Homo sapiens: one gene and its partner. The protein of the gene in region 1 interacts with the protein of each later gene in a pairwise test. Each region holds a gene or a part of one and is shown in the gene's direction. Other genes may lie near its edges.

Region 1 (4,771 bases):
TAAGTGGGAGGATCACTTGAGCTCGGGAGGTCAAGGCTGCAATGAGCGGTGATCGTACCACTGGACTTTAGCCTGGGCAACAGAATGAGATCCTATCTCAACAACCACAGAAAAGGAGATCTTGAAATTGTAAAAACTACTTTTGTTAGTAAAATGAAAACAAAAGTCCTCTATAGTGCCACCACCCTCCCAATTTTCCCTCTCCTTTTCTCAAACAATATAATTTACTTATATTCAAGATGAAGGGGATTTATGAGTAAGTTTGATTCAAGGTCAGACTGAAGAGGTTGGGTGAGTAGAAGAACATTTAGTATTAATGTTCCTAAACATGCCTCCTATTTATCTTTTTGGTGCAATATTCCACTGGCTTATATTTTCTGGGGTCATTTCAGCAGAGGCTGGTTTGATCTACAGTTTTCTAAGCCAGTGATTCATTTCTTTGTTACTGTTTTTTTTTTTTACCCTCTGTCATGATTGTACAAGGTGATTTTATTTCCCATGTCAATGCAATAAGCTAGAAGACATGAAGTATAGTAATAGTAATCTGTAAAGCTTTGCAGCTGAGACAAATTATAATAAAAAGGGTAACGTTAGGGAATGAAGGGCATGAAAAACAGAGCAGGAGACAGAAGCAAGCAAAAAATCTGAATCAGCATTTATTCATTTTTTTTCTCTTCTCATTCATTTCCTCTGTTCCAAGGATGATGTTCATTTGCTTTGGTGTTAAATGCTTGTACTGCAGAAGCACAACTTAGGAGGATGATTCTGATCACCAATAGTTTATAATACAAACCACTTAGAAGACAGACCCAAATTTAAAACAATGTTTTCATTTACAGTTGTTTGTAAAGTACCAGTAGCCTGCCTTGCTTGAAAGTCATTAATTGAGGTTTTTACACTCAAAACTGTATGGCTTTATATAAAAATGTTGCAATGAAAAATTAACTTATTAGAAAAAGTTGCAGTACCATTATTAAGACGCTGATACATAAATCTTTCCAGGGGTTTCATGACAGGAATTCTGACATGCAAAGTCGAGTGCCTCTCGTCATTGAGTTTACATTTTGATAGAGTGATAAGCCAAATACCCATGTAAAGGATTTATGTAGTGATGAAAAAACAAAACAAGATAATAAAGGGATAGAGAATTGGAGGAGCGCTTAGAGAGGTCAGGGAAGTCTTTTTGAAGTCGCAGTATTTGAAGAGAGCCCAGAATGAAGTCAAAGAACCGGTAATTGAGTGAGGAGCATTTCAGGCAAACAGAACAAGTACAGAACTGAAGGCAGGGGATGTATGATGACTAGTAAAGAAACCAGTGGAGCTGGAGCGGAGGGAGGAGAGGTCAAGTGGCAGGAACTGAATCTGTAAGGTTAGCACTAAGCAAGACCTTGTAGGATCCCTCTCTGTATCTAGGGTAAGGACTTCATATTATCTCTGCATGTTAGAAGGCCACTGGAGGATTTTAAACGGGGCACGATGGCCTATTTTTGTTTAGAAGTATATGTGTGGCTGCTGTGTGGAGAAGAGAGCATAGCAATGCGGCCGTGGAAGCAGAGAGACAGGTGCTTGGATTGTTGTCATAATTGAGGCAAGAGTTGATGCTATCTTAGACCCAGGATCATAGTATTAAGGTGGTGAGGGGTGACTGATTTGTTGGAAAGTGGACCTGACAGAATTTGCTGGCAGATTGGATGGTTGGGTGTGAGAGAAAGCAAGGCATCAAGGGTGACTCTTAAGGTTTTTGGATTGAGTGAATGCTAGTGCCATTTATTGACCTAGATGAGTTGGGGAAGGATCAAGTTTAGGAGGAAATCCAAAAATCTGTTTTCGATATGCTAAGCTTGAGGTGCCTGTTAGACATCGTAAGTGGAAATGTTGAATAGGTAGTTAAGTGTACATACAAGTTGAATGCAGGAGAGAAGTCTGGAGATAATAAATTTGGGAGTTGTCAACCTTTAAATTTTTAAACAGTATAGATTATAAAGAGAGGAAAAGAGGGCTGAGAACTCAGCTCTGGGCATTTTAAAGGTCAGTTGGAGCAGTTGTGGTCCTGAAAGCAAAATGTGTTGAGAGCTTCTGAGAAAATGAAGTAAAATGAGGACAGAAAAGTGCCGTGAGATGCATCTGTCTGGAAATCCTTGGTGGCTTTGAAAAGCAGTTGTAGTGGCGTCTTTGAGATAAAAGGTTGGAGAGATTGCAGGAGATTGGACAGTGAGGAAGAGGCGTTTGCAGAAAAACAGGTAGTGAGAGGGAGGGACAGGAGCATGTAGTCAGTGTTTTCTTTACTTTTGATTTTGAGATGAGAGATAGTTATGTTTGTATGTTGTTGGAAGTGATCAATAGAAAAGGAAACAGAGTAAAAGTTCTGTGTCAAATTTTGCTCTTCATCATGATCATCTACTTAGCCATTACCTTCTAGGTGTCAAGTGTCATATAGGGTTTGATAGTATTATCTTTCAGATATTCATGTGTTTTGTAGACTAGTTGCGTTATAAGCTTTAGAGATCAGTTGGACAGGCAGCCAGCCCTGGGATCAGGACATATTCTGGTCCTTCAGCTACTAAACTGGTAATTTTGAGCAATTTGTCTGACCTTTCTAAGCCCATTTTGTAATCTGTAAAATGAGTTTGATTTTGTTATGTTTTTAAATACGTAAGTTTTGGATAATAGATATAAGACGTTTGCACTGACAGTAGCCTTCTAGAGATTTTTCCCTTTGATGTTGGAGTATTTGTCATTTTATGCATATTATTGGAAAATATCATTAGAACTTGCTGTTCAAAATATGGTCTGTAGGCCAGCAGCATTAACATCAACTGGGATTTTGTTAGAAATGCAGAATATCAGGCCCCACAAGAGTCCTGCTAGATCAGAACCTGTGTTTTTCACAAGAACCCCAGCTCATTTATGTGCACATTAATGTTTGAAAAACACTGATCTAGAAAACAAGTGCCTGCCTGCCTGATTTTTTTTTTTTAGATGTTCAGGGAAGAGGGTAACAGTTTCTACATTCTGACATGCTTGCAATCTAAAAGTGTTTTTTATTCCTAGTCTTTTTGTTTGTGAATGTTTTTATATATGTAGGCATAGGACAAATAACTGTGATGTATTATTATGCAGTATATAGCTTCTATGTACTTTTGATGTTTTACACAAGGAAAATCCTTTCCATGTGTGGATGACCTTTTATTTCTTAATTGTTAAATATAGATAATTAGGAAAGTTGATAAGCAGACCGCATTATTGGATGCAGATGATCCTGTGTCACAACTCCATAAATGTGCATTTTACCTTAAGGATACAGAAAGAATGTATTTGTGCCTTTCTCAAGAAAGAATAATTCAATTTCAGGTATGTTTTTAAATTACTGGTGAAATCTAAAATGTACAAACTGTGAGGTTAGCAGCTTGCAAAAATATGAAATTTTCATTTGCTGTTAATTATATACAAATACATGAAGCTATACACAGATATTTATCTCAGGTATGAGCATCCTTAACACACAATCCTCAGACATGCAAGCAATCCTTCCTCAAGGAAGAACTCAAAATTATGAAAATGTTCTCAGAGAAAACAGTTAACATCTAGTTCCAGGGTTCTTAATTGAAGAACAAAGAGCCCCTCAGGATATCCAAAAATAGATTTTCAGTGCTCATTGAATCCTCTGAAATTGTGTGCAAACATTGTATAGACAAAGCATTTTTCTGGGTGAAGGCTCAAAATCTCATCAGATTTATGTCGTGGTTTCCGAAGATAGTAATGATGACATGCTTTGAAAGCTAATGTTTTACATTTACTCAGAAGGCTTTCATGAGGTTATGACATGGGCAGATGATTTAATAAGACAGTTATGGTTTCATGTGAAACTCCTTTGCAGAGAGATGCCCATACACACTGATGGGCATGCTGAGTCCCTGGTCTAGGTGTGTTAAGGTAGGGGTAGGGGCTTTGCCTTCCCATCTTGATTCCCTCCCATGGAACATGCATAAGCTTCTAGCTGTTGCCTAAGCATGAGGAGTCCCATTGTCTTTCTTAGGAGTCCTTGAAGAGTTTTAAACAGCCATTTACATCACAGATATTGATCTGCTGTTAATGAAATTGTACCTGCATTGGTATACTCATAATGGTTGTTCTGAAAGGTATTATTATTTAATATGTCACTGAAATAGTTTGTATTATAAGAAAAACTGCTGTCTATGGGGTTTCTGTATTAGCATTCTGTTTGTGTTTATGTAGGGATTGGCAAAGCACCATACTTTAGAAAGTTTATAAGTTTTTACTGAGTTATCTTCTTATTAACTCTTGTCTGAGGGTTACTTGGTAAAATTTTCTTATCCTATTAATACAAACTGTATAAAACTTAGTTTCTAAACTTCTTTCTTTATTAGGCCACTCCATGTCCAAAAGAACCAAATAAAGAGATGATAAATGATGGCGCTTCCTGGACAATCATTAGCACAGATAAGGCAGAGTATACATTTTATGAGGGAATGGGCCCTGTCCTTGCCCCAGTCACTCCTGTGCCTGTGGTAGAGAGCCTTCAGGTGAGAACGCCTAGTCCAAGTTGGCCTTCAGCTCTTTGCAGCTACTCTCAGCTGTGACCTGGCATCATTTCATTTCATGGGAGTTTTGATTTTTCTCCAATCGTCTGATTAGGGGATTTTTATATACACCATTTGTTGATTTAAAGAAAAAAAAACAAAATTAGGAGGAGCGTACTTGCCAGAAAATTTAAATGTAAATAAACTTGTATGTTATCTTGAAATGTTTT
Region 2 (5,211 bases), on another chromosome or scaffold:
ACTTTAAACTCAGAACTTTGGTTGATAGGAGAAGGTTTAAGTATAAAAAAAATGTGAATAAGACTGCATTGTGAAAAGTATTACTACTAAGAGCATTTTTTTGTATTATGAAAAGTACCGTAAGATAGTCATGGAATTTGGATAGTGGCCGGGTGCAGTGGCTTACAACTGTAATCCCAGTACTTTGGGAGACCTAGGCAGGTGTATTATTTGAGCTGAGGCATTCAAGACCAGCCTGGGCAACATGGCAAAACCCTGTCTCTACCAAAAAAAAAAATATATATATATATAATATATATACATATGTAAAATATATATTATATAATATATATTATATTATATATAATATATGTATTATATAATATATAAAATATATAATATATATTATATAATATATAAAAATATATAATATATATTATATAATATATAAAATATATAATATAATATATATTATATGATATATATAATATATAATATAATATATAAAATATATATAATATAATATATATTATATAATATATAAAATATATTATATGATATATATAATATAATTTATATAATATAATATATATTATATATATTTTATATATTATATTATATAATATATTATATATATCATATAATATATATTATATATAATATATAAAATATATATGTACATATATAAGTAATATATGTACATATATAATATATCTTATAAAAAGACAATTTCTTATATAAGAAAGTTGAATAGGTACTGGTAAAAATAATAGTTGTTACTCTTTATTAAGTACTATTTGTCGAGCACTTCACTAAGCACTCTATTTACAGTCATACATTGTGAAAGTGTGCTAAATTTATATACTACACAGAGTTTTCAGTTGGGATTTTTGAAAAATATAAATGCTAGAAGAGTAATGATTGTTTAATAGTCTGTATAATCTCTGTAACACTGGGGAAATACATCATTTTCTTGACATAGTTGGAAGTACTGTAAAGAAGGCATGCTTTCTATAACATCTTATTAAAATTACCCATCTTGTGATGAAAACTGATGAAATTAGTATAACCTCTCATCATGATGGCCAAGCTTTGTGACCCTTTATTGGAGTGGTTTTTATTCTAATTATTAACAAGTTTGGTGTCTGAATTCATTCGATATCTAATAAAATTGTTGACAAGGAAATGTAGTTTTGACACTTCAGAAGAGACATTTTCTACTTTATAAAATTAAGTTCCTACATGTGAAATTTGAGAAGCCACCAAAGTAAACATTCTATTATTCATTTAAAGCTCTTAATTGAGCCGGGCGCGGTGGCTCACGGCTGTAATCCCAGCACTTTAGGAGGCTGAGGCTGGCAGATCACGAGGTCAGGAGTTTGAGACCAGCCTGACCAACATGGTGAAACCCCGTTTCTACTACAAATACGAAAATTAGCCAGGCATGGTGGCAGTTGCCTGTAATCCCAGCTACTCCAGAGGCTGAGGCAGGAGAATTGCTTTAACCCAGGTGGCGGAGGTTGCAGTGAGCCGAGATCGTGCCACTGCACTCCAGCCTGGGCAACAGAGCAAGACTCCATCTCACACACACACACACAAAAAGCTCTTAATTGTATGAGCACCTCTATGCCATTTAGAGGCAACCAGTATTAATATTTAAAATTCAATTTTATTTAAGATTGTATTATCAATGTTAACAACCAGACTGAATAATTAAAGGGCCATTAAAGTAATACATAGGAATTAAACATTTTGTATAGAAGAAAAAAATTAAAAACCCTCTTGGTTTAAAATGAAATATTAATATAAGACAGGTGTTTTTGTTTGTTTTTAACTAAATAAGGCTTTTTTTCCTAAAACTATGACATCATTAATAACTTCCCCCATACTCCAATAATAGACAGTTTTTCCCCATCATCTCCCTAGTACCTAGGGCAAACTTACAGTTGTTCTTCGCAATATGAATGGAATGGTAAAGCCTGGAAAGTCCAGTAAAATATATTATCTTATAACTGAGTTTTTCTCACCAAATTTTTAACCACATCTGCTATTGACAGGTAAACAAATTTGAACTGATTGCCTTTTGCTTTCCATGATAATATGCAGGTGAGTGCGCAAATAAGTGGTAAAAGACCAACAAAGCAGTAAAAAGAAATAGACAAAGTATTCAACCAGCAAACTAAAGAACTCATTTCTGAATATTTTTCTATCCCCCTACCCTCCCGTATGAACTCCTTTTTGGCAGTAACTGTCTCATTCTTCCCTAAGTGACAGACACATCAGCTGGAGTACGTCATTTAAGCCAGTGTAGGTGATTTAGGCTGGCAACTTTAAATAGCTGCCATGAAATGTTGTCATTAGTTTGCTATCTGCAGGGAAAACAAAATGAAACAGGAATATACAAAATGAGATAAGAGTCTCTCTTACCTTACATAAACCTTATGTTTGAGGGCAGGGGGCAAACCTTTAAAAAAAAATTATTTATTTATTTAGAGACATGGTTTTGCCATGTTGGCCAAGTTGGCCTCCTGGGCTCAAGTGATCCTCCCGCCTCTGCCTCTCAAAATGCTGGGATTACACGCATGAGTCACCACTCCCAGCTGAAAATTTTTAAAATTTATTGTTAGTTCATATTTGGGAAACAAAAAGCTCACTTTTCAGTCTGAGATTTTGCAAAAGTGGAAGTGTAGTGTAAAAAAATATAAAACATACATACCAATAGCCAGCCTAAAACTGCTTGTTAGCAACCCAAGCTAGTAATTAAAAATTTTGAAATCTGGGAATAAAAGCAAGATTAATTAAAGTACTTGGTGGTTACCCATAGGTGTGTGTGTGTGTGTATGTGTGTGTGTGTGTGTGTGTGATTAGCAACCACTTGGCAATGTATTCAGTATTGTTATTTGACAAATAAGGATGAGGAATTTTGAATTGGAAATAAGGATGATAAATTCCTCATGTACCTTTAAAAATACATCTTTTAAATGAACTCTTACTGAGAGAATAACTACTAAAAGTTTAATTGTAGTTTTTTATTATAATATTTTGCTTTGATTTTATACTAAAAACTGCCAACCAGATAACATCTAAATGTATCTTTTTCAATATGACAAAGTTACATAAGAAGACTCCCCTTGCACGTAAAGAAAAATGCAATTATTTTCTATTCTGAATCTCCAGACTGCTGTTTTAGAAAATCATATCTGATTATTTGCTCAGCAGAAGATTATTGAGTTGATTTAGCTGTGATTTTACTTAACAAAGCTTCAACTGCATTCCTACTGTGGAGTCCGAAAAAGGTAGAGAGATATAAATGATACATTCAAACTGTGATTTTTGTGAACAGGGCCATCGATGCACCCCTCGGAGCTAATAGCGGAGATGAGAAACAGTGGGTTTGCACTGAAACGAAATGTACTGGGGAGAAACTTGACCGCAAATGATCCATCACAGGTAATGATCTTTTTATCAGTAAGCTGAAAATGTCTATAAATCTAAATGTGATTGCTTGTGAATTGCTACTTAATGTTTTCCAATATGCATATATCCATAGGAAAGTAAGATAGAGCAAAGAAAATGCCCAAAATGTGTTTTGATTTTGCTTTATTATTTTAATCTAAATGAGAAATTGTTTATAAACCTGTATTTTAATAAATGAAACTGCTCCTCTGAGTTTATGTGGATAAAATATCTAACTGAACTGGTGATGAGGTTGTTGGTTTTTCCTTCCTGCTAACTTACCCCTGATATGACATTAAATAGAACCAATGGTTAGAAGTATGTAAAAACTCCTAAAAATTGTAGAAAATATTTTAAACTTATTTATTTTATTAAACTATACATAGATCCAGAAAATGATTGAGTTTGAAGGGCTATATTATTATATATTTGATAATGTGCTGTTGAAATTATAATAAAAGCTAAAATTGTGGATATTTTGACATTCCTGTAAAACTCATAATCTTCTTTTTTATATTTCATTAAATTAAAAATAAAGTATTTAAACTGGCAAGAGTTAACATTCAAGAGATAGAGAATGGAAGTCATGCTCTAAACATTTTATCTGTGTGTGTCTATCATCCTTTTCCTGGAAAAGTTTCCTAATGCTGGCAAAGCAGTCATGTTAACCTCTTAGTGCTGTATGATCCACTTCGGCAGGGAGACTACAAAAAAATTTTTTAATTCTCTCCCACTTCCCAATCCAAAATATCATATTCATCTACAGTGTGTCCCTGATACAAAACTTATTTATAAATGTTTTCTTTTTTATCTACTAACTACCTTGTGTTGAAATCTAGCAATTTAATGATATCTTTGTTGACTCAGGAGTATGTTGCAAGTGAGGGTGAAGAAGATCCAGAAGTTGAATTTTTAAAGTCACTAACAACCAAACAAAAACAGAAACTTCTCAGGTAATTTAGAAGTATATATTTAATAGATTTATTTTTTCCTTAGTATTCATCTCAGTATCGTATTCAACTCTGATCCTAAGAGCTCATGAAGGTCCTTATACCATGCATCACATTTATTGATTATTCTTCACCCATAGCTAATACAATTTTGTCTGTCTTTTCAGTAACATGGAAATGAGTGTAAGATTGTATACTCAGATTGTACCACAAAACGATTGCACTTTTCAGAATGTTTAATTTAGAATTAGACTTATTTATAGCTTTTACTTTTCAAAATAGATTTGTGTGTATCTTCGCACACAATTTGTTCTTAGGAAACATTTTTGGCCATTTTTAAAATGTTTTGTAAAATTTTATGAGAATGCAGAAAGAATGCTTAAATTTAAGGTAAACGTGAATTTTGTTAAACAGACTACCTCTGAATTAAAAGAATCCAAGAAATGTCTGCTGGGTCCAATAGAGGGAGCTCATGATGCTTTCAGTATGTAGAGTTTTGAGAATGGCTAGACAGAACCTAGAGACTTATTTTCAGAGTAACTCAAACATACCATATAAACAAGTTACTCCTCCAAGAATGTGAAGTACTCTAGAAATTCAGAATGTTTTAATAGGATTGTCCTATTTATAAAACTAAACAATTGTTGAAAACAAGTATTAACTATATTATTTTATAAAACCAATATTTCAGAAGTTTAATGTGTACTCTTACTCAGAATTTCTGGAGAATATTCTCTTGAATTTTGATAACGTTGATTAATATTTATATACTATAAAATAGTACATAAAATTAATTTTTCATCTGATTATAGCTATATATTTGCTT

What was found.
Region 2: the proteins of RBPJ (region 1) and CIRSR interact in a two-hybrid assay, tested with the Homo sapiens proteins (one study listed by BioGRID and IntAct).

The regions. Positions count from the first base shown.
Region 1 is NC_000004.12:26,425,510-26,430,280, forward strand, and holds part of RBPJ (recombining binding protein suppressor of hairless), read left to right. Parts: intron 1-3,210; coding exon 3,211-3,351; intron 3,352-4,388; coding exon 4,389-4,544; intron 4,545-4,771. UniProt on the Homo sapiens protein: Transcriptional regulator that plays a central role in Notch signaling, a signaling pathway involved in cell-cell communication that regulates a broad spectrum of cell-fate determinations.
Region 2 is NC_000002.12:174,349,837-174,355,047, reverse strand, and holds part of CIRSR (corepressor interacting with RBPJ 1), read left to right. Parts: intron 1-3,322; coding exon 3,323-3,429; intron 3,430-4,302; coding exon 4,303-4,388; intron 4,389-5,211. UniProt on the Homo sapiens protein: May modulate splice site selection during alternative splicing of pre-mRNAs. Regulates transcription and acts as corepressor for RBPJ. Recruits RBPJ to the Sin3-histone deacetylase complex (HDAC). Required for RBPJ-mediated repression of transcription.